Homo sapiens: one gene and its partners. The protein of the gene in region 1 purifies or fractionates together with the protein of each later gene. This does not show direct contact. Each region holds a gene or a part of one and is shown on either strand. Other genes may lie near its edges.

The links.
Region 2: the proteins of ZBTB10 (region 1) and PPP1R10 purify together in Homo sapiens (affinity purification with mass spectrometry, with the first as the bait; one large-scale study listed by BioGRID). This does not show direct contact.
Region 3: the proteins of ZBTB10 (region 1) and STAU2 purify together in Homo sapiens (affinity purification with mass spectrometry, with the first as the bait; one large-scale study listed by BioGRID). This does not show direct contact.
Region 4: the proteins of ZBTB10 (region 1) and GRHL1 purify together in Homo sapiens (co-immunoprecipitation; one large-scale study listed by IntAct). This does not show direct contact.
Region 5: the proteins of ZBTB10 (region 1) and RTRAF purify together in Homo sapiens (affinity purification with mass spectrometry, with the first as the bait; one large-scale study listed by BioGRID). This does not show direct contact.
Region 6: the proteins of ZBTB10 (region 1) and SYNGAP1 purify together in Homo sapiens (co-immunoprecipitation; one large-scale study listed by IntAct). This does not show direct contact.
Region 7: the proteins of ZBTB10 (region 1) and LSM14A purify together in Homo sapiens (affinity purification with mass spectrometry, with the first as the bait; one large-scale study listed by BioGRID). This does not show direct contact.

What each region holds. Positions count from the first base shown.
Region 1 is NC_000008.11:80,517,226-80,520,725, forward strand, and holds part of ZBTB10 (zinc finger and BTB domain-containing protein 10), read left to right. Parts: intron 1-1,177; coding exon 1,178-1,354; intron 1,355-1,556; coding exon 1,557-1,729; intron 1,730-1,997; coding exon 1,998-2,303; 3' UTR 2,304-3,500. UniProt on the Homo sapiens protein: May be involved in transcriptional regulation.
Region 2 is NC_000006.12:30,607,244-30,610,743, forward strand, and holds part of PPP1R10 (serine/threonine-protein phosphatase 1 regulatory subunit 10), read right to left. Parts: intron 2,713-3,500; 5' UTR 2,702-2,712; coding exon 2,595-2,701; intron 1,921-2,594; coding exon 1,834-1,920; intron 1,672-1,833; coding exon 1,536-1,671; intron 649-1,535; coding exon 597-648; intron 1-596.
Region 3 is NC_000008.11:73,610,841-73,614,340, forward strand, and holds part of STAU2 (double-stranded RNA-binding protein Staufen homolog 2), read right to left. Parts: intron 3,117-3,500; coding exon 2,904-3,116; intron 1-2,903. UniProt on the Homo sapiens protein: RNA-binding protein required for the microtubule-dependent transport of neuronal RNA from the cell body to the dendrite.
Region 4 is NC_000002.12:9,954,693-9,958,192, reverse strand, and holds part of GRHL1 (grainyhead-like protein 1 homolog), read right to left. Parts: intron 3,279-3,500; coding exon 3,092-3,278; intron 1-3,091. UniProt on the Homo sapiens protein: Transcription factor involved in epithelial development. Binds directly to the consensus DNA sequence 5'-AACCGGTT-3'.
Region 5 is NC_000014.9:52,008,870-52,011,194, reverse strand, and holds the end of RTRAF (RNA transcription, translation and transport factor protein), read right to left. Parts: 3' UTR 501-2,325; downstream 1-500. Other genes in the region: NID2 (nidogen-2), read left to right, coding at 148-319. UniProt on the Homo sapiens protein: RNA-binding protein involved in modulation of mRNA transcription by Polymerase II. Component of the tRNA-splicing ligase complex and is required for tRNA ligation.
Region 6 is NC_000006.12:33,440,565-33,444,064, reverse strand, and holds part of SYNGAP1 (ras/Rap GTPase-activating protein SynGAP), read right to left. Parts: intron 3,337-3,500; coding exon 3,100-3,336; intron 2,893-3,099; coding exon 2,691-2,892; intron 2,485-2,690; coding exon 2,306-2,484; intron 1,613-2,305; coding exon 1,571-1,612; intron 1,177-1,570; coding exon 105-1,176; intron 1-104. UniProt on the Homo sapiens protein: Major constituent of the PSD essential for postsynaptic signaling. Inhibitory regulator of the Ras-cAMP pathway.
Region 7 is NC_000019.10:34,175,504-34,179,003, reverse strand, and holds part of LSM14A (protein LSM14 homolog A), read right to left. Parts: intron 1-3,500. UniProt on the Homo sapiens protein: Essential for formation of P-bodies, cytoplasmic structures that provide storage sites for translationally inactive mRNAs and protect them from degradation. Acts as a repressor of mRNA translation. May play a role in mitotic spindle assembly.

The DNA of each region.
Region 1 (3,500 bases):
ACTCTAGGAAGGCAACAGTGGAAGTAGGGAGACAAGTTTTTGGTGGCTACTGAAGACAGTCCAGGGGCTAGAGCTCATGATTGATTGGATCAGGGTGGCAATAGTTGTGGAAGATTCTGGATATATATTCCTATTGCCAAAAGGTTCCTGGTCCAAGGAATTACATTAAAGATGGAATTAAATCCAGTGGATATAATTCCTGTCCTTGCTAATCTGAAGATCCTTAGGCACATGTATTATTCTATTTTGATTCTATCTTCTGCACGTTATTTTATTTAAGGATGGAGTTAGAAAGAAATTTCAGGGAACCCTGAGAGCATTCAGTTACCTTGCCCTAATATGTCTGAAACAAGGATCTAGTAATAGAACTTTACATTTTTAATTATCCTATATATATTCTTTATTCTTAGTCTATTTTTCTGTACCAATTAATCTTAAAATTATGTGCCTGTCCTGGATTCGTAATAAGGAGAATATCCCATTTGATAGCTGGGCTTTAGGGTGATAAAATCTTAAGTGATAGAGTAGTTAGAAAAAGCAACTATTAGGAGTTCTGGTTTGAATATACCCATCCTTTAAAAGGGTAATTTCTTGTGGCGTCTGCACAATTAAATGATATTCATGTTTTTTTCTCCCGCCCGCCACCTTTTTTTTTTTTTTTTTTTTTTTTTGAGACATGATCCCACTGTGTCGCCCTGGCTGGAGTGCAGTGGCGCAATCTTGAATCACTGCAACTCCCGGGCTCAAATGATCTTCCCCAGTAGCTGGGACTGCAGGCACACACCACCATGCCCAGCTAATTTTTAAAATTTTTTTGTAGAGATGGAGATGGAGTTTCTCCATGTTGCCCAGGCTGGTTGCAAACTCCTGGGCTCAAGTGATCCTTCTGCCTCAGCCTCGCAAAGTGCTGGGATTATATGCATGAGCCACTGTGCCTGGCCCATGATTAATTTTTTTAACTGAATTTCTTCTACTATAGTTGAATGGTATTTTGTTTAATTGTGATAATAAAGTAGGAAGACATCTCAATTTTAGACTAAAATACAGTTTTATTTAACTCATACTATGAAATTCTATCATAATGCCTGTAGGATATAAATATAATTTCTGTTTTCTGACTCTGATGAGAGACAGATCTTTATTACCATTATTAATTCAGAATTTTTACTTGTACTAGGTACTTCACATGATTTCAAGTATGGTTTGATGCCTGGTCCTTCAAATGATTTCAAGTATGGATTGATACCAGGTACTTCAAATGATTTCAAGTATGGATTGATACCAGGTGCTTCAAATGATTTCAAGTATGGATTATTGCCAGAATCTTGGCCAAAACAAGAAACCTGGGAAAATGGCAAGTATTAGTCAACTAAACAAATACAGAATTAATTAAATAATTGTTAACAATTAAAAGCTTTCATGTTCTGCATTTTTTAAAAACCAAGTAGCAGTAGCTCCACATAATTGCTGTTCTCAGAGATAGAGATAAGAAGTTTTGATAGCAAGTTTTCTGTTTAATGTGTAATAAGCACTTTCTCTTTTTTTAATTCTCATAGGTGAATCATCTCTAATCATGAACAAGTTAAAATGCCCTCATTGTAGCTATGTAGCCAAATACAGACGAACACTAAAAAGGCACTTGCTCATTCACACAGGAGTGAGATCATTTAGCTGTGATATTTGTGGAAAACTGTTTACTCGAAGAGAACATGTAAAAAGACATTCCCTGGTAAGTAACTTTAAATACAGCTGATCTTTGAGATAAACTATATTTATGTCAGTGAAGTTTAAAGGGATTTAAACAGTTAATTGTGAATTTAAGGAAGATTGTCTCCTAAATTGCTTTAAACAGTTTGACTTTATGAACTGATAGTGAGCTTTTTACAGAGAAACTGGTGTATTCACTCACTATTAAATGTGTGGTTTAATTTGAGTGGTTCAAATGCATTCTATTATATATAATATCCTTATATTGGATTTTTTCCCCCTCCAATTAGGTGCATAAAAAGGATAAAAAATACAAATGTATGGTGTGTAAGAAGATCTTCATGTTAGCAGCCAGTGTTGGAATAAGACATGGATCTCGACGTTATGGTGTTTGTGTAGACTGTGCAGATAAATCACAGCCAGGAGGGCAAGAAGGTGTAGATCAGGGACAGGATACAGAATTCCCTCGGGATGAAGAATACGAGGAGAATGAAGTAGGAGAAGCTGATGAAGAGCTAGTTGATGATGGAGAAGATCAGAATGATCCCTCTCGATGGGATGAATCAGGAGAAGTTTGTATGTCTCTAGATGATTAACTGACCTACTATACTCCTCAAGGATGCTGCATTTGGACCTAATATGAATCGACAATTTGGATTGTTGAACTTGAAGGCTTGCAAAATATGGTACATGCTGGATAGTAGTTATGTTGCTGTGAAAACTGTAGGGTCAAAGCCTTATAGCAAAAAAAATTTTTTTTTATATTTGCACAGGACTATACAGCAAACAACCATGTGGTTGGATTACATGGAGTCCCCACATACTCAGTCAGTTATCAAAGTAAAATATTTTTTATTTATAGGATATACAGTAACTATTTGGGTCCTATGAAAATAGTCCTTAAAGAGCTTACATTCATGTGCTACTTTAACATGAATGGAGAAAATCCGTTTATGGAAGTACAGTGACAATTGACCCAATCACTCTGTCCATCAAACCACTCAGGCTAGTTTGTACTAGTAGAGTTTTGTTTCTATTTTTATTTTTATTAATTTTATTTTTTTTAATACAGATTTTCAGTGAGGGGCTTTTTCAACCCCATTGGTTCTATTTTCTTGTATTTTTCCATTTAATTTGCTTCATAACTTAAACCAAGTCTCTTCTAGTCTTAGGTATTATTTCTCGATTTTGTGCTGATGGGCATGTTTATAAGAACTGGAGAGGTAATTTATTGGAATGAACTAACTGACTTCCTCCATTCCCCTCTTCCTTTTTGACATGAATTTTACTACTTCACAAATGAAGAATGATGTTATGAAGTTACCGTGGCGAAGTTGACAAATACCACTAAAATGATTATGATTTAGAAGTAACTTTCTTCTGCTGCTCTAATCTGATAAATGGTTACTATATGATATTTTCTGACATGGTATTTGGTTTTGGGTATCTGTTACTTTGGCACTATTCTTGTTTGCCTCTTTATTTTTGCCAGTGTACTATACCTCAGTCCTATTTGAAAGACCTAATTGAAAGAAAAATCATAGAAATAAGTAAAATGATTTGTTTTATAATTTATCCACCATGTCCAGTTTGGTTAGCTTGTTATGCAATATAAGTGAAATATCAGGTTTTTACCCGTGTCCCTTTTATCATGAAAATTAACACAAAATGTGCATTCTCTTTTGTTTCATACTTAGCGGGATATTGATTGTTTTGAAATTATGATCAATACTTAATTTATTTTTTTCTGTCCTTGAAGTCACTACACCTTGATACAGTCTTTCTAGTAGTCA
Region 2 (3,500 bases), on another chromosome or scaffold:
CCAGTTCCTCAAAAACTGACATTTTTTTAAAAAGCTACGTTAGTTGCTTTATGTATAACACACCTAATTGTTACAACAATCTGAAGACTTTTTATTTTCCTTTATAGATGTGAAAACAAGAATAAAATTTGTTTCTAAATATATGAAAAAATACTTTGTAACTCTTTCCTTTTGTACTTGGCAAATAACATCTCTGATCTATGGCACCTCTCTTCTGGCCAACATTTCCACTTATAAACTCATTTCATAATTTATCATTTAGTAATAGGAGTTTCACAGATGAGACACGCTAGGATGATACTATTTCCCACAGCAAATTTTAAGTGTATGTGTTTTATAACAAGCAATTTTAGGAATCAGCTTCCAGTTAAAGTATGGCACCTTATATTCAGCAACAGAGAAATGAACAACTTTGGAATTGAGAACAGGAAAGAGGGTACAGGTTAGAGGAACTTTCTCTTTAAAAGAAGGAAAAAAAGCAAGGTGAGGTAGAAAGAGAAAAGTGAAGGGACAATCCAAGGATGGGAAAAGATATTAAGGTAATTAAGTGGAAGTAATAGAGAAAAGCCCATGAGAGAGCAGAAGTGGCACCCTACCTTCATCCTCACTTGACTTGCTCAGCTGCTTCACCAGTTTAGCTGTGTTGTTCTATGAGAGATGGGAGCAGCAGAAAGGTAAATGCCAGGAGGCAAATAATTCCACTTAGAGCTAAAAACGACAAAAGTTACAGTCCTCCCTGCTTTTTTTTTTTTTTTTATTTTTTGAGACGGAGTCTCACTCTGTTGCCCAGGCTAGAGTGCAGTGGCGCAGTCTTGGCTCACTGCAGCCTCGACCTCCCAGGCTCAAATGATTCTCCCACCTGAGCCTCCTAAATAACTGAGACTACAGGCATGCACCACCACATCTGGGTAAATTTTTTGTATTTTTTGTAGAGACAGAGTTTTATCATTTTTGCCCACGCTGGTCTTGAACTACTGGGCTCAAGCAATCCACCCACCTCAGCATCCCAAAGTGTTGGGATTACAGGTGTGAGCCACCACACCTGGCTGACACATTCCTTTTTTTTTTTTTTTTTTGAGACGAAGTCTCACTCTGTCGCCCAGGCTGGAGTGCAGTGGTGCGATCTCGGCTCACAATAACCTCCACCTCCTGGGTTCAAGCGATTCTCCAGCCTCAGCCTCCTGATTAGCTGGGACTACAGGCGCATGCCACCATGCCTGGCTAATTTTTTGTATTTTTAGTGGAGACGGGGTTTCACCACGTCAGCCAGGATGGTCTCAGTCTCCTGACCTCATGATCCGCCCGCCTCAGCCTCTCAAAGTGCTGGGATCACAGGCGTGAGCCACCGTGCCCAGCCGCCACACACCTATTAAAGGAGATAAATTCAAACCAAGTCTTCTTCTTCTAAATTCCTATTTTTTTTCTGCTGTTCTACCTCACAGGCCCAAGATTACAGCCACATCAGTCAGTTTGAGTTTTTCATCCATTAGACTAAACCAAAAAAGGAAGAATCAGGGTTTAAAGACTAAAGGTACCTGCTTGAGATGGTCTACAGTGAGCGGTAGATGCTGCAGGGTCAGTAGAATTTGCTGGAGGAGGGGAATGTTGTTGGTTGTCTTTGAATACGTCAGCCAATTGTTAAGAAGTTTGTAGCCGCCAACGTCAATAAATCTGCAGGCAGGCAGGAGAGTCTATCAGTAATGCCCTTTCTAGGTTTTGACAGTACCACATCCTACAATCCCAGTCTCCCATCAATGACCGAGGAACCCCATGCCTCACCGCCCCATCTTTTCGCTACACCTTCCCATTCCAACCATCCAGATCCCCACTTACTTGACCAATATTTCTGGTGAACGGGTCTGCAGGAGAATGTTCAAGTAAGTGCATCGACTCACCATCTTTCGTGCTTCCTTCATCAAACTGCAGAAGATGAGTTAGGGTTAGAAATGAAGCAGCCAGTATCTCTTCTCTTAGCAAAAGCGCCTCTCTGTGAACTGCCTAGAGATTCCTAATGACTTGGGACTTTGCTCCAGAGAAGGGGAGTCACATATACCTCTAGGAAGATGGGATGGATCCAGTGTGACATGGAAACTTATGGGAGAACAGAGACACCGCAGTCTCTGACCTGGGGAGGAGAGCATCGCTGCCTCCGTAACACACAGGATGAATTCCATTCTGCCTCCAGGTGATAAGGCTATCCCTCAACAACTGTCCCTAATAGTCTGTTCAAGACTGGCTTAGTTATTTACTCTCCCCTGAAAAACCTGAGAATCCCTGAAGGAAAATAACATTATGGGTAGGTGGAACACGAACCAAAACAATCTAGAATTCTGTTACCAGGCTACCCTGCTCTCATTCCAAAGCATGACTCCCTTGGGACCGTGGACGTCCAAATCTCCAGTTTCCATTATGGTCAGAAACAAGTGATCATCTTTTCCTATCCCTTATCCTAAAATTGTTACATTTTAATCCTATTGCACTGACTATCTTTCCCTTTCCTTTCCAGGATCATTCCAGTGTGCCTCAACTGCAGCCATGTTTTAACACACAATATTCTCTACTCACAGTGAATACAAAAAGGGGTAAAGACTCACCTGAAGATCTTGGAAATCCCATCCACACTTTTGACTTCCCCATCTCGGTTAAGGAAGCTGTCCAGGCCCTTGAGAAGTTCTTTGGGGTCTATGGGACCCGAACCCATGATGGTGGTTTCTATGGTAAGAGGACAAAACAAACAAACCCACAGAATAAATGGGTGGCAAGGACTACCCGAGTAGGCCCTCTAATAAACCACATCTCTATATTTGACAAAGTATAATGACTAATTATTCAACTATGCTATTTTTTAGATATGAAAAATCGACACAGACCACTTGCCACTACTGAGAAAATAGCCCTGGCAAGTTAAGCATGGGGAGCATATGTGACTGAACAGGAAAGCAATTCGATTGGAGGAGTAGGGCAGCACACCTGTCCCTCCCTCCCAGCAGCATCCTTCCTAGGATGGCTGAACTTCACTAGATCGTATTAAAGCTAAGATCAGTTCCCATAACAAGATGTTCAACTCTCCAGGGCATTTACACCTATCGTTAAGTCCTGTCTTCCCTAGTTGCTGATAAATTTGGCTTGAAAAACAGCCTATAGCTTGATAGAAATTGGGCCAATCTTGGGTGTTTGAGCTAAATGTCTTATAAGACTTGAGTCCTTTTTATCTTAGCCCATTAAGAGTCATAATCACTACACATGGCAAGATATGTATCAGCTGAAGTGGTAGATGATGGAGAACAAAACAAAACTTGAAAACAGAATCCCTCCCTAAGGAGATCTGGGAGTAGGTGCCAGAGATTGAGACAAATGGATGCATGGAAATCAAGCAGGTCCTCCTAGACCTTGAATAGACTGTCACTCATTAGCCAAACACTACACAAGTTTTTACTGTCTCTAAGTTAAAAGGAAGCTAGTGGTTTGTGCTTTCAAAAGCAAAGATGCGAATCTGGTCC
Region 3 (3,500 bases), 6.9 Mb from region 1:
TGACTCTGAAAATCCAAAAGTTCACAATTAACCAATATCAAATGGGCACTGGAGTCAGATGTGACAACTGGATCTGAAAGCTGATTCTGCTACAGGATCTTGGATAGGTTTCTTAAATATAAAGGGCCTCATCTGTAAGATGGAAATGAATGCTGCATCACAGAGTGATTAAGTGATCAAATGAGACAATGTGATTATTTTATTACTTTAAATAAAACCAAGGCAAATAATCATAGATATTTTACCTGCTTCCATTGAGTGTAACAAACTATAGACCCTCAATGTATAAGCCATACAAGGAAGTGAGGAATATGCTAAAAATCAGGATACTATTCCAAGCTGATCCATTTACTGACATATTATAAGGTATGAACATACTTAAAATTATCTAGATTCCAACTCATTATACACATGTTGTTCTCTCAAAATAATCTTACATTTCAGAGGGTATCTACAAGCTTTATTTTAACATAAGACAGACATGGCAAAAGTAACTCCAAGTGTGATGTATATGAGGAAAAATGCAGGAGGCTAACCTAGTCTGGGAGTAGGAGAGGACCAGAGGAGTTCCTAAAAAAGTCAAGTTTATGCTGAGATCTGAATGATGCATAGGAGGGAAGTTCTGGGATAATATTACTTATATACTGGAAGCAGTAGCAAATAACTGAGAATTCAAAATGTTTCTCCTGTCTCCCACCTCTGGGGAATAACATTTAAATAATAATCTTGCTTTTAATAGCTATAGTTAAAACAAGAGTTAGATTTATATCCTACTATAGAAATGTACAGATCTTTTCCAGCCTAACAGTTTATTATGATGATTATTATTATGATTATTATTATTATTATCATTTTGAGATGGAATCTCATTCTGTCACCAAGGCTGGAGTGCAGTGGCAGTGATCTTGGCTCACCTCAACCTCTGCCTCCTAGGTTCAAGCGATTCTCATGCCTCAGCCTCCTGAGCTGTAGCTGGGATTAGAGACGCATGCCACCACAACCGACTAATTTTTGTATTTTTAGTAGAGACCAAGTTTCGCCATGTTGGCCATGCTGGTCTCGAACTCCTAGCCTCAAATGATCCACCCGCCTCAGCCTCCCAAAAGTGCTGGGATTACAGGCATGAGCCACCGTGCCCAGCCTGGTTTGCCTGGTTTATTATTCTTAATTTATCAAGATAAAACTTAGTTTAATAGAGCAGACAGAAGTTATGTGACCAGTTTTGTGCCACCATTCCAACATAAAATGCTGTTCCTCCATCACAGAAAAGCCATAGATTTTATATATTAATAGATTTAAGAAAACAGTTCATGGATATATTCACATAAACATAAAATGTGAATAGGTAGTATTAGATACAAAATACCAATAGTTAATATGTGTTATTTATTATAGTATTTGCATTATCATTAATAACAATGAATACTTAATAATTACTAATGCATTTTGTGCATTGTTTCAGTTAATACTTATAACAATCCCATACAGCAAGGTCAGTTACTATTCCCACTTTATAAATGAAGAAATATTTTTAAAGTTAGGTAACTTGCTCAGGCCACAGGGATTCATACTCAGAACTGACTCCAAAGTTCATTCTCTTAATAGCTATATTCTACTCCTGACTGTGTAGGAGGAGCATATGAATGAAAGTGCCAGTCCTCTTTGGAACCACTATGACTCATGATAAGTGGATCTATTTGTATTTATTTTTAGTCTACCTTACATATAACATATAATTCCAGTTCAGGGAATGCATTACCTACTACATCTTCTAAGTGAAGTCATGTCAGTATTCATTAAAAACAAATATTTAAGTAGTTATTTTTGTATATATGTATATATGTATTTTAAATAAAGGTACAAAGGTATAAAACCTGTAAAAATACCTAAATTGTGCCATTGTGCAATCAAAAGAAATCCATTGAGATTAAATATATTTCTTATCTGTAATCCTTCATTTGTATAGCCTGATCAGAAGAAGGCTGCTAAATCAGTGAGGCTGAGCCAGCAACTAAAATGCTGGCAATTTAAGGCTTTCTCTGGAAACACAGAACTCTAGCTCCAGACATGTCATACGTGTCAAGCATTCACAGGCACTGTCCTGTACTAAATGCTGATTCATCTCATTCCTCTGATATTTACCTTGCTTCTCTTATTAATGTAAATAAATTCTGACCCAATAAAAGAGTCACAATATCTTGAAAAGCTGTGTGCTCTATATTCTTCTTTGGCAAGGTATACACATCTGAACGAATGGCAACAAAATAACACCATCTACTTCATATGGTTGCTATGTGGATTAAATGTGATTAAAGCATGCAAAGTGTTGGGACAAAGTCTGGCACATAGACTGCTTTATGATTTCCAGCTGCTGTAGCTATCATTGTTAGTATTAGTCACATGATTTTTTTGTGTGTATCCTGTTACCATTTCATGATATCCTAAGAAGTTACTATGCAACAGCCATGTGTGCAGAAAGAACACTGGATTAGAGATCAGAGCGGTTCAGGAGGTTTGACATGATTGCTGAATAAAAATGGGCAAACTCTTTGAACACGTTTTGTAAAATCTTATTTGTAAAATGAGGGCTAACATCATCTACCTTATACGGTCATGAGGGGGATTATAGTAAAGGTGACATGAATGGTAAAGCACTTTTTAAACAACAAAGAAATACATAAATACCTAAGGTATTATGATTATTTGATGTACAAATGCAGGTGCACAGGTATTTAAAAAGCAAAATAGAATTGTCATTAATTTATAGTCACATGTCCTGCCCTCATTTCAGGACTGTATATAGTCCATAAGTTCAGGGATCTGCCTTATAGAAAAATGCTTATCTATAGCTACTATAATATTTATTTAGTAAAACTGACTGATGTTCACAAATATAAACTTACCTTTACTATTGTTTTAGGGCGTTTTTTAAAAAATAGTTTTGGCTTTTCCACCACAGGAAGAGGTGGAAGTTTTTTAAGCTCCTGTAAGACGGTGGTCGCAGCGCGCTTCTTGGAGAGTTTTTTGCTATTTCCTTCTCCTTCTGCAGAGAACTCTCCTACTGACACTCGAGTAACAAAGCTTTTCATATGTGGTGGTCCACTTTCTTTAATAACCTATTAAATACAAGTAAAATATTAAATAATGGATAGGCACTTGAGATGTATTCTTAAAGTATGACTTAATATTCATATCAAAACCAAAATTAGTATTATGCCAAAATTATAGTATTTCTTTAAGAAAGCTATTATGAAGGTATTATACTGGGACTATTTATGACACTTGATGCTTAATGCAATTGAAACAAAAGAAATCTAAATAAACACATTTGATTCATAGTCAAAATGATTTATTACTTTAAAACAGATCATTCTAATTACAGTTTCTCCATGTCTTATGGAACACAAATTTAAGAACATCAAAGATACCATTAGATTAGATACCATATTAGATTGGTCATCTAGAATGATAATTTGTATATAATTACATACCTAACTTCC
Region 4 (3,500 bases), on another chromosome or scaffold:
CAAAAAAAAAAAAAAAAAGAAAAAAAGAAATACCTCTGCCCTGGTTTTACTCGTTTATCTACACAACATTAGAGAAGAAGCTACTGAAAACACAACGGAGCTCTTCCAACTTTCTCAGTGCTCTTTCCTACCACCCTCCATTCAGATCAAATGCAAAAGCAGAAGGAACAGCCATGTTAACCCTTCATTTCTTCTAAGATCCAAATGAGGGCTTCATATGATCACTGTCTTTAGATACGCTGGGATTCATACGTCCATCACCCAAAGGACAAGTCTAACTCAGTGTTCTATTCCTTTTTTGGTTCTTTTCTTTGCAAGGGAAGTGAAAAGTAGGCAAATGTTAGTGAGTGTCCTGTAGAAATAACTCAACTGAGATTTAACCCCATTGCGCACTCCAAAATGGCTAAGGTGCTTAAAAATGGCTTTCAGCGTGAAAATTCTATTCCTGCATCCTTGTTTTCACCATTAAAGACAAAACACTGCTGGCCAGGCGCGGTGGCTCACGCCTGTAATCCCAGCACTTTGGGAGGCCGAGGCGGGTGGATCACAAGGTCAAGAGATCGAGACCATCCTGGCCAACATGTTAAAACCCCGTCTCTACTAAAAACACAAAAAATTAGCTGGGCATGGTGGCACACGCCTGCAGTCCTAGCTACTCGGGAGGCTGAGGCAGGAGAATTGCTTGAACCCAGGAGGCAGAGGCTGCAGTAAGTTGAGACTGCGCCACTGCACTCCAGCCTGGGCGACAGAGCGAGACTCTGTATCAAAAAAAAAAAAAATACTGCTTCATGTATTAACAATATGCTTTTCAAGCTTTATCAAAATTATTATGTAATAATGACTGATGCTTATACAGCCAAAGACCTGAAACAAATAATTCAGTTTATTTGAAAAAGAAAATAGGCCAGGCACAGTGGCTCACGTCCGTAATCCTAATACTTTGGGAGGCTAAGGCAGGAAGATTACCTGAGGCCAGGAATTTGAGACCAGCCTGGGCAACATAGTGAGACTCCTCTCTACAAAAAATTTTAAAATTAGCCAGGCATGACCTATAATCCTAGTTACTCAGGAAGCTGAGGCAGGAGAATCAGTCAACCCCAGGAGGTTGAGGTTGCAGTGAGCTATGACTGCACCACCACACTTCAGCGTGGGCAAGAGCGAGACTCTGCTTCTATTAAAAAAAAAAAAAAGAAGAAGAAGAAGAAGAAAATAAATTTACACCTATCACAAGAAGTCTGACAAGTAAGTACCACTAAAATTGTCACCCTTCATGGACAGACATGAGGATTTACATGCTTCTGAGACGCAGGAGTAGTACACCTAGTGTTATCACACGGGCCTTTCTGGCACAAAACTTGTACCAACGAGTTTCTCCCATTCTCAAAAGTTTCAGTTAAAAATATGTAACTTCATAATTAATGTTTTAGGAACTTAATTTATAGTAAGTCAATAAAACAAGCTATAAGAACAGATATATAATAATTTCCACTTCAAAGGAACTCTTCATGGCTATGTTTCCCTGGTAAGAGTTTCTTCTAGCATCATTAGTTATTACACAAGTTTCTGCTCATATTCAAAGAAAAAAGAGCTTACCTCAATCCCTCAGCCCCAACTTAGTTAGACGCATGGCCTCATACTAGGAAATAATCACCCCATTTTTTTTTTTTGAGATAGGGTCTGTCTCTGTCACCCAGGCTGGAGTGTAGTGATATGGCATGATCTCAGCTCACTGCAGCCTCCAACTCCCAGGCTTAAGTGATCCTCCCACCTCAGCCTCCTAAGTAGCTGAGACTATAGGCATGTGTACTAACCGGCTAATTTCTGTATTTTTTTATTTATTTATTTTTGGTAGAGACAGGGCCTCATCATGTTGCTCAGGCTAATCACCCTAATTTTAATAATAAAACTATCTCCTAGGCTTCTTTCACCTCTGTATTTCTTGTATTAAGGAAAGAATACAGTGCCAGAATGTAGCCAATGGCTAGCAACTGGCGATTCTGGGTAAAGGTATTCAGGAATTAATTATCCTCTTATTTTAAGTTTTATGCAGGTTTGAAAGTTTTTAAAACAAAAAGATAGCAAAAATAAACTGTAAAAAATATACACTACATTCATGAGAAGACACTGTCATTAAGAAGCTTCTGGTAATCCCAAACAGATCCTGTTTTTATACAGGTACTGATGACAACACAATGATTACACAGGTTAGTCACACAGAGTGACAATGAGACAAAGGCCCTGTGGCAAAGCTGTGCTTCAACTCAGTCTGCTGTTTTAAGTAGCACCCTAAAGACGTAGCCACCCCCAAATGTGTGTTTCTGGTCAGAAGGAAGAATGGAGAGGTGAATCCAGAAGGAGAGCGGTATGCACGCTGCATTAGAAAGACAGTGGCCTCGGCCATGGACCAGACTAGGGCCCCAGATGCACACATCCTAGCTGTGACCTCTGAGTGAGAAGTCGCACGCAGGCTGGTAACATGTCTAGCATAATAGTGGCAGCTAGTGTTATCAGGACAATGATGATGAGACAAATCAGTAGTGTCACTTCCAGATAATGAAAATCATGTAAAATTCCATGCAGAGTATAGATTATATTTAATTAAGAGTACTCCAAATCTCTAGAAACAGGCAACAAAACATATCCTGATCTTGGAACTGGACAGTCCTAGACTACAGAATATGATTTCAAAGGCTCTGTAGTATCATTTAGGGAAAGGAAATCATCCTGACTACCCAGGAACAAAGGTGAAAAGGTAAATGACCCCTGCCCACTTTCCATGGCACTAAGAACCACCTTCAGTGAGATGCTCAAACCCAAGAAGGCACATCTAGCATCTTCTTTTACGGTAGCTTCACCTTCTGGATAGAGCCACAGCAGCTGACCGCTTTGCATGTTTTAAAAACAACCCTTTGATTCTACAATCACAGATTTTTAGCTTCGAATCACAGTAAGTCAAAGTACTCATTAAACTATTTATAGTCACTACAGAAGCAACTTGCATGGCATTCTACCAGCAAATGTCTGTTTCTATGCTGCTGAATCAAGTGCATTGGAGACTGCTGTTAAGGGTTTTAAAGGCAGGCAAACCCACCTTGTAGTAGTCATAGAGCAGGCCCAGCGCAGCGGCGCTGTCTTCATCTCCATTGATGCTCATCATCGCTTTGGTCGCTGCAGTGAGAGGGTTTTCCAGGAAGGATTTCCAGGCCTCATCCTCACTAGTGTAGGACCGCCGCTGTGGATAAAGTGCTTCATTCTGAAGAACCAACACTGGCCGTTTGCTTCAGAGAAATTAAAAAAAAAACAAAAACACACACTTTTCTACTGCAAGGTATCATAAGCTACCAATTCCTTGACATTCCTATAAAATAGCCTATTGTTTCATCAATGACCCTAGGAAGTCAAATTAAGACAAGACCAGAAGACAAACCACGTAAGTGCAGACCAATGGGTCCCACAGTAAGACATAAAGTATCTAGGCAGCCAGAGAACTGGCAGTTCAC
Region 5 (2,325 bases), on another chromosome or scaffold:
CTCTATTAACCTGGTTCTTGGGGACTTGGAGACACTTGGGCTTTGCTTTCCCCTGCTGACCCCCCTGCCCACCCGACCGTTGGAGGGCTTCAGGTTTGCCCTCCATATCCTGCAAACACTCCAGTCCTGACTTTGCTTTATTTCCAGGTCTGATAAGCCCTGAAGGACTTGCCATAGACCACATCCGCAGAACAATGTACTGGACGGACAGTGTCCTGGATAAGATAGAGAGCGCCCTGCTGGATGGCTCTGAGCGCAAGGTCCTCTTCTACACAGATCTGGTGAATCCCCGTGCCATCGCTGTGGATCCAATCCGAGGGTCAGCTGGGCTTCCCTAATTCTTCTCTTACCTGTAGATCCTGATGTGAAGCCCTTGGGTTTTAAATACAATGTGGGGAAGGTCAGAACAAGAGAGTGAAAGCTCAAATGCATTCATGTAACAAAGATTTACTGAGGATCTAAGAGGTGTCAGGACCTGTTCTAGGAAAAGACAAGGTCTGTTCTTTCATGGCACTTATATTTTATTAGGAGGAAACAAGACTGGTATAAACAATATTAGTCTGTGATGTGATATGTAGAAAATTCAGATAGTGTTGTGAGAACTAGGGCTACTCTGAATCAAATGATCAGGCGAGGCCTCAGCTGACACTTAAACTGGAAGTGAAGTGGGATTCCTCCAGCAGCACATTTAGAAACCAGGGTTGACGCTCACAGTAGGGCTGACCTACATCAAGTGACATTAGCCAAAGCTCAGACACCTCTGGCTTCAGTGTTGCTGTAGCAGAAATCAAGATAAACATTTTCCCTGTCTGTATAATTGCTAAGGTCATCAAATGTGACATACAGGATTTGTTCACTGTCTCAGTACTTGTTACAATCAGGGAGAATTTTTATATCTTGAGAAACTCTTGCCATGTTTAAGTGGAGTTTCTACGAAATGAAATTCCCAGATGCCCTTCAAATCAGTAAAGAAAACCTTCAGCTTTAATTTTCAGGTAAGTGCTTTTTGACTATGAAATACTTAGTGCAGTGCCTCAAAGGTGGTTTCAAACTTTGGGTTCTACACACAGGAAAAGTACCTGTATCCTTCTCTATTCCAGTTGACTTAACAGGAATTAATAGCCCTCTTAAAAACTCTTTGCATAGGCTTGCCTTTCTGACATTTGGACATTTGGAAGGTCCTTTTTTCTTTTTTTTTTCTTTTTTTTGAGACAAGGTCTTGCTTTGTTGCCGAGGCTGGGGTGCAGTGGCACAGTCTCGGCTGACTACAACCTCCATCTCCCGGGTTCAAGCAATTCTCCTGCCTCAGCCTCCCAAGTAGCTGGGACTACAGGCATGTGCCACCATGCCCAGCTAATTTTTGTATTTTTAGTCGAGACAGGGTTTCGCCATTTTGGTCTCCAACTCCTGACCCTGGGTGATCCACCTGCCTTGGCCTCCCAAAGTGCTGGGATTATAGGTATGAGCCACTGCGCCCGGCCCCTTATTCCTTCTTGGTGCTTGACCTGAAAACTGGGGAGAGCTGCCATCTTGTAGGCAATGAAACTTTGGCCATGTCTCTGGAGTCTGGGGAAAAAGCATACTTTTAAGCTGAAATCCACATCACAGCCATGAGTTTAAATATGAAAGTAGAACTTTCTTATCCAGACAGCAAATATAAATGCTAAAGGACTTGAATTTTTAATAAAAAGAAAACCCACCTTGAACCAGGTTGCAATATAACACATGTAATTACATCTCCTTCAACTGCGTAACAGAATGGTTGTCAAGCCTTCCTGCATATTTCTCATTTGCTTTCTATAGATTTCACCTTTACAACTTTCTTCCTCTGGCAATCCCCAAATAATTTACACCAAATATCTGTGTGAGCTTGTTTCAGACTTATTGTTGTTGATGATATTAAATCATTTTGGGGAGGAGACTGATCAGAAGCGATGAAGCAATGATATGCATGCTGTACCCTCTGGCCACCTCCACCTTAGCGCAAAGTGGAAACTGCTTTCTAGCTTTTGCTCTCAGCTTCTCTCTGCTTCATCTGTTGGGCATAAGGGATGAAATTCGCAACAGGGGAAACCTATGGTTTCTTCCTCTCCTCTCACTGAGGTTCTCTGTAGCCCAACTGATTTATTCAAAGCTTCTATAGCTTTTATAAAATAGTATTTTATAAAAAGTGCTTTCAACATTATTTCTGCTCTAACGATAAACCTGTTTGTTTCCTTATAACCTATTTCCACTTAATAGGACCATATTTCCTCGTTAGTATCTGTTATGAATATATTTCATTTTTAACGTGGCATTTAAAAGGTAAAGTGCTTAACTTAAAAT
Region 6 (3,500 bases), on another chromosome or scaffold:
GAAGATTGTAACTTCAGGCCACAGACTCTGTTTCAACCCCACCCCCCATCTCCTTCTTCCCTCCCTGTTGTGACCCAGCCCGCCTTCCTCCTGCCTTCACCTACCTGCTTGGTGATGGAGGGCTTCAGCCCCCCACCCCCTCCGCCACCGCTGCCCCCGCTGCCCCCAATGCTGCCCTCCTTGCTGAGGCTCTGTTGCCGTGGACGGGCGGGGCCATAACTTGGCTCTGGGGACTGCAATAGATTCCCGCTGGATGGCCGGGGTTTCTGGGCTGCGCTGACTGTCAACTGCTGAGACTTGCCCCTCTGCAATGGAGGCGGCTGGCCCCCGCCACCCCCACCGCTGCCCCCACCGCTCCCACCTCCAGGCCCTGAGGGGGCTGGCCTCTGGGGACCAATGGTGATCTGGGGAGGGGACAGCATGTGCTGCAGGTTGTCCTGGAGTGAAAGCTGCCGACGGGTGAAGTCAGTGCCAGAGGGTCCAAACTCATCACTGTAGCTGTGGCTATGAAGGATGGAGGCAGCAGGGGGCTTGGGGACCCCGGAAGAGAGGTCCTCACTCTTGCTATAGCCATGGAATGGGGCAAAGGTGTCCCCAGGGGGCTCTCCACCTCGGTGGTGGTGATGGTGGTGGTGGTGGTGATGGGAGGAAGGTGGGCCATGGCCACCGCCCCCTCCATGGCCGCCTGGGGGACCTGGCCCATCAGCAGCCATGTGGAAGAGAGGGTTCTGGAAGGAGAGGGGGATTCGCAGTTGCTGGGCAGGGACACCGTCTGTGGTGACACCCATCTGGCTGAGGCGCATGCCAGCCGCCGTGATGGATGAGCCACTCCCCTGGGAGAGGCGTCCGGCAGGCGCAGGCCGTAGCCCCAAGGCTGCTGTCAGCGAGGCCTGGCTTGAGTGCAGCAGGTCCCCTACGGCCGCCAGGTTCGAAACACTGCTGCTGTTGAGGCGGCCACCAGGCCCATCACCCTGTAAGTCCAGCATGGACACACTCTTGTTGACACTCAGCATCTTCTGCTCTGGCTCTGTGATGTCCGAGCTGCTCGTGCAGTATGCTGGTGAGGAACGGGCCAGGGGTGGACGGCTTACATAGAACAGGTCTTTACCACCACCAGGCGGTGGTGGGGGTGGCTTTTCCTTGGTTGGGGAGGGGAGGCGAGCCATGTCCATAGAGCTGTCAGAAGGGAAGGGGGCACACAAGCAGAAGGTAAGGTCAGGGCTCCTAGCAATTGAACCTTGCTGTGGTCTGGCACAGGCCTTGGGGTGAAAAGTGGGACCCAGAGGGAAGGGCTGAGAGCTAGCGGTGGCAGCCCTGAAGAGGGCAGGCAGGGAGGATGGGAGGGGACAGGTGAGTAAAGGGAAAGGACAGGGCCCCTCCGGGAAGGGGGTGAGGCCTAGAGGAGGGGAGATGGGGGCAGCAAGAGAAGGGATGGGGGCAGGGCTGGGCACATATGGAGGAGATGAGGTCCATGGAGGAGGAGAGGAGAGGAGTAGGGCGAAGGCCAGTGGAGTGGGAGAGGGAACAGACAGGAGAGGAGAGGAGGGCGGGGGAGGGGAGAGCCCCTCACCTGTTGAGGCCTCGAGCCATGAAGGACTGAAGGTCGATGGAGCTGGAGAGAGATGGAAAGAGGGGCGAGCACAGACAGAGAAGGAGAGAGATGTGGACAAATGAAAGGAGAGGCGGGAATGGTGGGATGGGTATGGTGTCATGGAGGAAGACACGGGCAGAGGAAAAAGCAGGGCCATCATCAAAATAATGAGCAGCAAATGAAGCACGGGCACCACCTATCAGAATGGAGGCTGGGACTCTGGAGCAGGCTGCAGGCCCTGCTAGGCTTCTGCTGTCACTGCTCTAAGTGCTGGATCATGGGGAGGTCTGTGGGGTTGTGGTCGGGGGCTGGGGGAAGTGCTTATTCACTAGCTATTACTGAGATGTTTGAACATTTTGACACATGGCTGACATGACATGCTGGCTGAACCTCAGCCTGGGGACTAGCATGGGCAGGCAGAGGGACAGCAAATCAGAGCTTGCAGCAGGGATGCTCTAGGCTTACAACTAAGCCGTGAGTTGGTGGAGCCTCAGCCCTATTCCTAGAGCTCCAAATCTCTCACTCCCTCAGGCTGTAAAGGGCTCTCAGCCTACCACTGACTGTACCTGTCTCCTTATCGTCTCCCCTGAGAACTTGGTGCTTTTTCCTCCCTTCTTTCAAGCCCTAGAGAGATGCATGTGGGGCCCAGTGAGGAGTATCTAGAATAGGAGAAGGGCTCCTAGGGCACAGGCCTGGCTGTCCCAGGGTGCTCACCTGTTGAGGTCCCGCATCATGTAGCCCTGCATCTCAGCCGATGGCCCCCGCAGTACCACAGGCTGAGGCCGGGGCCGCTCACTCTGGCGGCTTGGCTGCCTTTGGATGTTGGGGTTCCTCAGAGCTGTGCTGATGTCGTTGAGGAGCCGGGGCAGTGGACCCAGCTTCAGGAGGGCTTCCTGGAAGGGTGAGGCTGTTACCTGGGGGCTCAGTGCCCAGCTCTAAGAGGGCCTCTGAGGGTGCAGGTGGAGGGGGCCTGAGTTGGGATAGTAGTGGTGACACCTCGAGAAACAAGGGGAGAAAAAAAATCTTCAAAGGGTAGTTTCTCAGGCTCCAGGAACCTCTGGAGCCATCTGGGGATAGGGCAAAGAGGGGATCTGCTGACCTTGCTGAGCTGGGGCAGCACCTCCCAGAGTAGGGCATGCAGTGTGGAGAGCTCTCGGCCCAAGTCGATGTAACCCTCAAAGCTACTGCTGTTGGTTAGCGTGTCCAGATTGGAGATCTCATACAAAAACTGCTGCATGGAACCCCATTCCAGCTCCAGAAACTCATTCATGAAGCCCAGAAAGTCCTCCTTTGAGGTAAACCTAGCCAAGAATGCAGAAGATAAAGGTCACATACACACACACACACACACACACACACATACACACACATACACACACACACAAGGTATCATAGCCTCCCCATCTCAGGATCTCTGGGGACTCAGGAGACCCTTCTTGCCGACCCCCAGCCCTGCCACTCCCTGCCCTGCCACTCCCTGCCCTGCCCACTCCTGAAGCTTCCCTCACTTGGAAAAGTTGGCCAGGTTCTGGATGACCTTGGCAATGAGGGTGAGGGTTCGTGAGGTCTGCTCATCTGGGTACTCCTGCATAAGCCCAAAGAGACTGGGCGACATAATCGCTGGGCAGAGGAAGCGCAGGAAGAGTGAGGCGCTGATAAGCCTGTCTGCGATGTCCTCCCGGCCTCGCTCTGCGCAGCGCAGCCGCCACGAAGCAAACACCTCCTTCAGCTCCCTCGGGAACACGCTGGGGGGAAGGGTCGGGGAGACAGAGAGAGAGAGAGAGAAAGAGAGAGACCGGGACTGAGCCCCAGAGACCCTCAGCTTCCAGGGAACATGCTGAGGGGGGTGGTAGGAGGTGAGGGTGTGGAAACAGGGGTGAGAGAGACAGGGAAGGAGGGACCGCAGGAG
Region 7 (3,500 bases), on another chromosome or scaffold:
GACGTAGGTGCAAACACAACTGGAACTATTCCATAAAATATTCATACATGTCACCACTGTGTAATTTCTTCCTACACCCTGAATGGAGGCTTCCTTTAAACTTTAAATGAAAATTATAATTGAGCTTGAGTCACAAAGAGTTTACCTCCCCAATAATGTTAATTATGTCACTAGATTTCATCCTCTTGCATCCCTACTCACTGAAATTCTTCAAGATTTCTTAATGTGAGGCAGGATAATTTAATTTTATAGGGAAATGCAATTGTGAACATGGAAAAGCATTATTTGGAGGTATACCCAAGATACTTCTACAAGAACAATAAGCTAAAATGCTAAATCATTTCCATTTACTCACTAACTAAACAACCTTTCATACCAGGAGCTCAGAGTCTGGAGGTGAAGGGGAAGGTGAAGACAGACAATAAACACATATGCAAATAAGCAAAGAAGATTAAGTGTAAGTCATGATCAGTGCTGAGAAGAAAATAAATTCAGAGCTGTGACACAGACTACAAACTGCAACAAACTGCAGAAACAAACTGCAACACAGATCATCTATAAACATACATAGCAGATTGACATCAAAGCCTTTCTAGGTTGCCTTTATGACTTCTTGACATATGCTTAGGTTCCGAGGATCAAAGCCCCTCAAACTTACCTGTTTCACTTTCTAGAACTAAAGCTAGTCTGTGACATCTCTAGCAGAAAATAAGGCACATCGACCATTTCACAGCACCTCTGCAATTAGGCTTTTGATTATGTGGTGTGATAACTTATCCACACTGAAACATTTTCAAAAGAGAAAACAGATTATTATTATTATTTTGTGTTTTTTTTTTTTTTGAGACAGAGTCTCGCTCTGTTGCCCAGGCTAGAGTACAGTGGTGTGATCTTGGCTCACTCTAACCTCCGCCTTTCAGGTTCAAGCAATTCTCCTGCCTCAGCCTCTCAAGTAGCTGGGATTACAGACATGCACCAGCACGCCCAGATAATTTTTGTATTTTTAGTAGAGACGGGGTTTCGCCATGTTGGCCAGACTGGTCTCGAGCTTCTGACTTCAGGTGATTCGCCTGCCTCAGCTTCCTGAAGTGCTGGGATTACAGGCTATCATTGTTATTTTTTAAGACAAGGTCTTGTTCTATGTTTCAGGCTGGAGTGCAGTGGCATGATCACAGCTCCTCTTGGGCTCAAGCAATCCCCCTGCCTCAGCCTCCCAAGTGGCTGGGACGACAGACATGCATGCCACCATGCTTGGCTAATGCACTTTTTAAAATTTTTTGTAGAAATGGAGTCTCCCTGTATTGCCGAGGCTGGTTTTGAACTCCTGGGCTCAAGCAATACCCCGGCCTTGACCTTTTGGAAATGTTGGGATTACAGGCCTGAGTCACCCTGCCCAGCCGGGATGTTTTTAATAATTATGCCAGAGCAGGCACAAACAAGGACTTTCCACCAGGGCAAACTAGGCCATATGGTTACCCTAATTATATACCACATCAAATGTAAATAGCCAAAAATTTCAAGAGTAGTTTATAGTTCCAGATATATTTAAATTATAATATCCAAGCCCTAAATTATAATATGGACAATATAAACCAAGTGAATCCCTTACTAAATATAAAGCTCTGAATATCTCACATTGTACACAAAATCAATTTCAGATGCATTATAAACGTCAATGTGAAAAAGCAAAGCACAAAAAGGTTTAAAGATAATCAAAGTATCTCTATGATGTTTTAAAAAAAGAAACACTAGCCATAAAAAACTGATGAACATGTTTACATTAAAATGAAGAACTTCTGTTAATTTAAAGAAACTACTAAATGGAAAAAATGTTTGCAATATATACATCCAACAATGGAGATATATTCAGAATACAGAACTCTAGAAAAAGACGTGTTTCGATTTAAAAAAGGAAAAGATTTCAAAGGCATTTTATGAAAAATGAAATCCAAACACCCAGATATGAAAAGCTGGTCAGCCCCATTTAGTAATGAGGGAAATGATTAAAACTAAATACAACTACATACCCACCAGGATTGGCTAGAATTGAAATATATGATACCACGTACGGTTGTTGGTAAGGGATATGAAACAAGAACTCTTACATACTAATAAATGAAGTAAAAACCACTAAACAACTACTTTGAAAAACTACCTGGCATTACCTGATAAAGACCAACATTCCCCATGTTCTTGCAATTCAAATTCTAAGTATATAATCTCAAGAAAACGAAATAAACATGCACCAGTGCACTTAAACAGAAATGTTCATAAAAGCATTGTTTATAATAGCCCCAAACTGCAAACAATCTAAATGCAATATCCAAAACAATGGCAGAAGGAATAAACTTGTGTTATATTCATGATGGAATATTATGAAACAATAAAAGCTAAAAATAAAATATATACAACACAATCCTATTTACATAAAGTTAAAAATGGGCAAAATTAAACTCTATTATTTAGAGATGTAAACTTATATGGTAAAACTATAAATGTCAGAAGAACATTTATATCTAGCTTAAATTAAGATGGTGATAGTTGTGATGGGAAAATATAGGTGGTGGGAGGCTTCTGGGATGCTGGCAATGTCTGTCTTGCCCTGGGTGGTGGTTACAAAGATGTTTGTTTAAAAATATTTCATTTTTATCTTATGTATCTTTTCAGCCTGTGTAGTTAGGTTTCCCAATAACACTCTCCCTGAGAAATTAAAAAAAAAAAAGTTCAAAAGAGAATGCTAAGACTGTTACTCAAAGAGATTAACTCTTAATCCATAGTTTAAAAACAGTAACAGGGATCTCTACATCCAAATACACACTGTATTATAAATTCCATGAATAAACTTTTGGCTTCAGGCCGGGTGCAGTGCCTCACACCTGTAATCCCAGCACTTTGGGAGGCCAAGGTGGGTGGATCATCTGAGGTCAGGAGTTTGAGACCAGCCTGGCCAACATGGTGAAACCCCGTCTCTACTCAAAATACAAAAATTAGCCAGCTGTGTTGGGCGCCTGTAGTCCCAGCTACTCGGAAGGCTGTGGCAGAACTGCTTGAACCCGGGAGGTGGAGGCTGCAGCGAGCCAAGATCGCACCACTGCACTCCAGCCTGGGCAAGAGCAAGACTCTGTCTCAAAACAACAACAAAAAAAAACGAAAACAAAACAAAACAAACACTTTTGGCTTTAATCTTTTAGACTACCATTCTTCGTTCAAATTTTGAAATGGAAGGTGAAATTTTCTGATATCGAATTACTCAACAAGTCATGTAAATTTTAAAATTTTAAGATTGAACTCCTTGCTTCTAATCTTGAAATCTGAAATGTGTCCAGTATTGACTAGACAGTTATAATGTAGTTTTCGATTAGATAATATCATGTAGACTAATATATAAAGGTTTGATAATGTCAGTTTTTGCGAACATAATCAAATTCCCCAAACTGGTTACACATTTAACTCATGTTGCTTAAGAAAAAGCAGCCGGGTGCGGTGGCTCATGCCTGTAA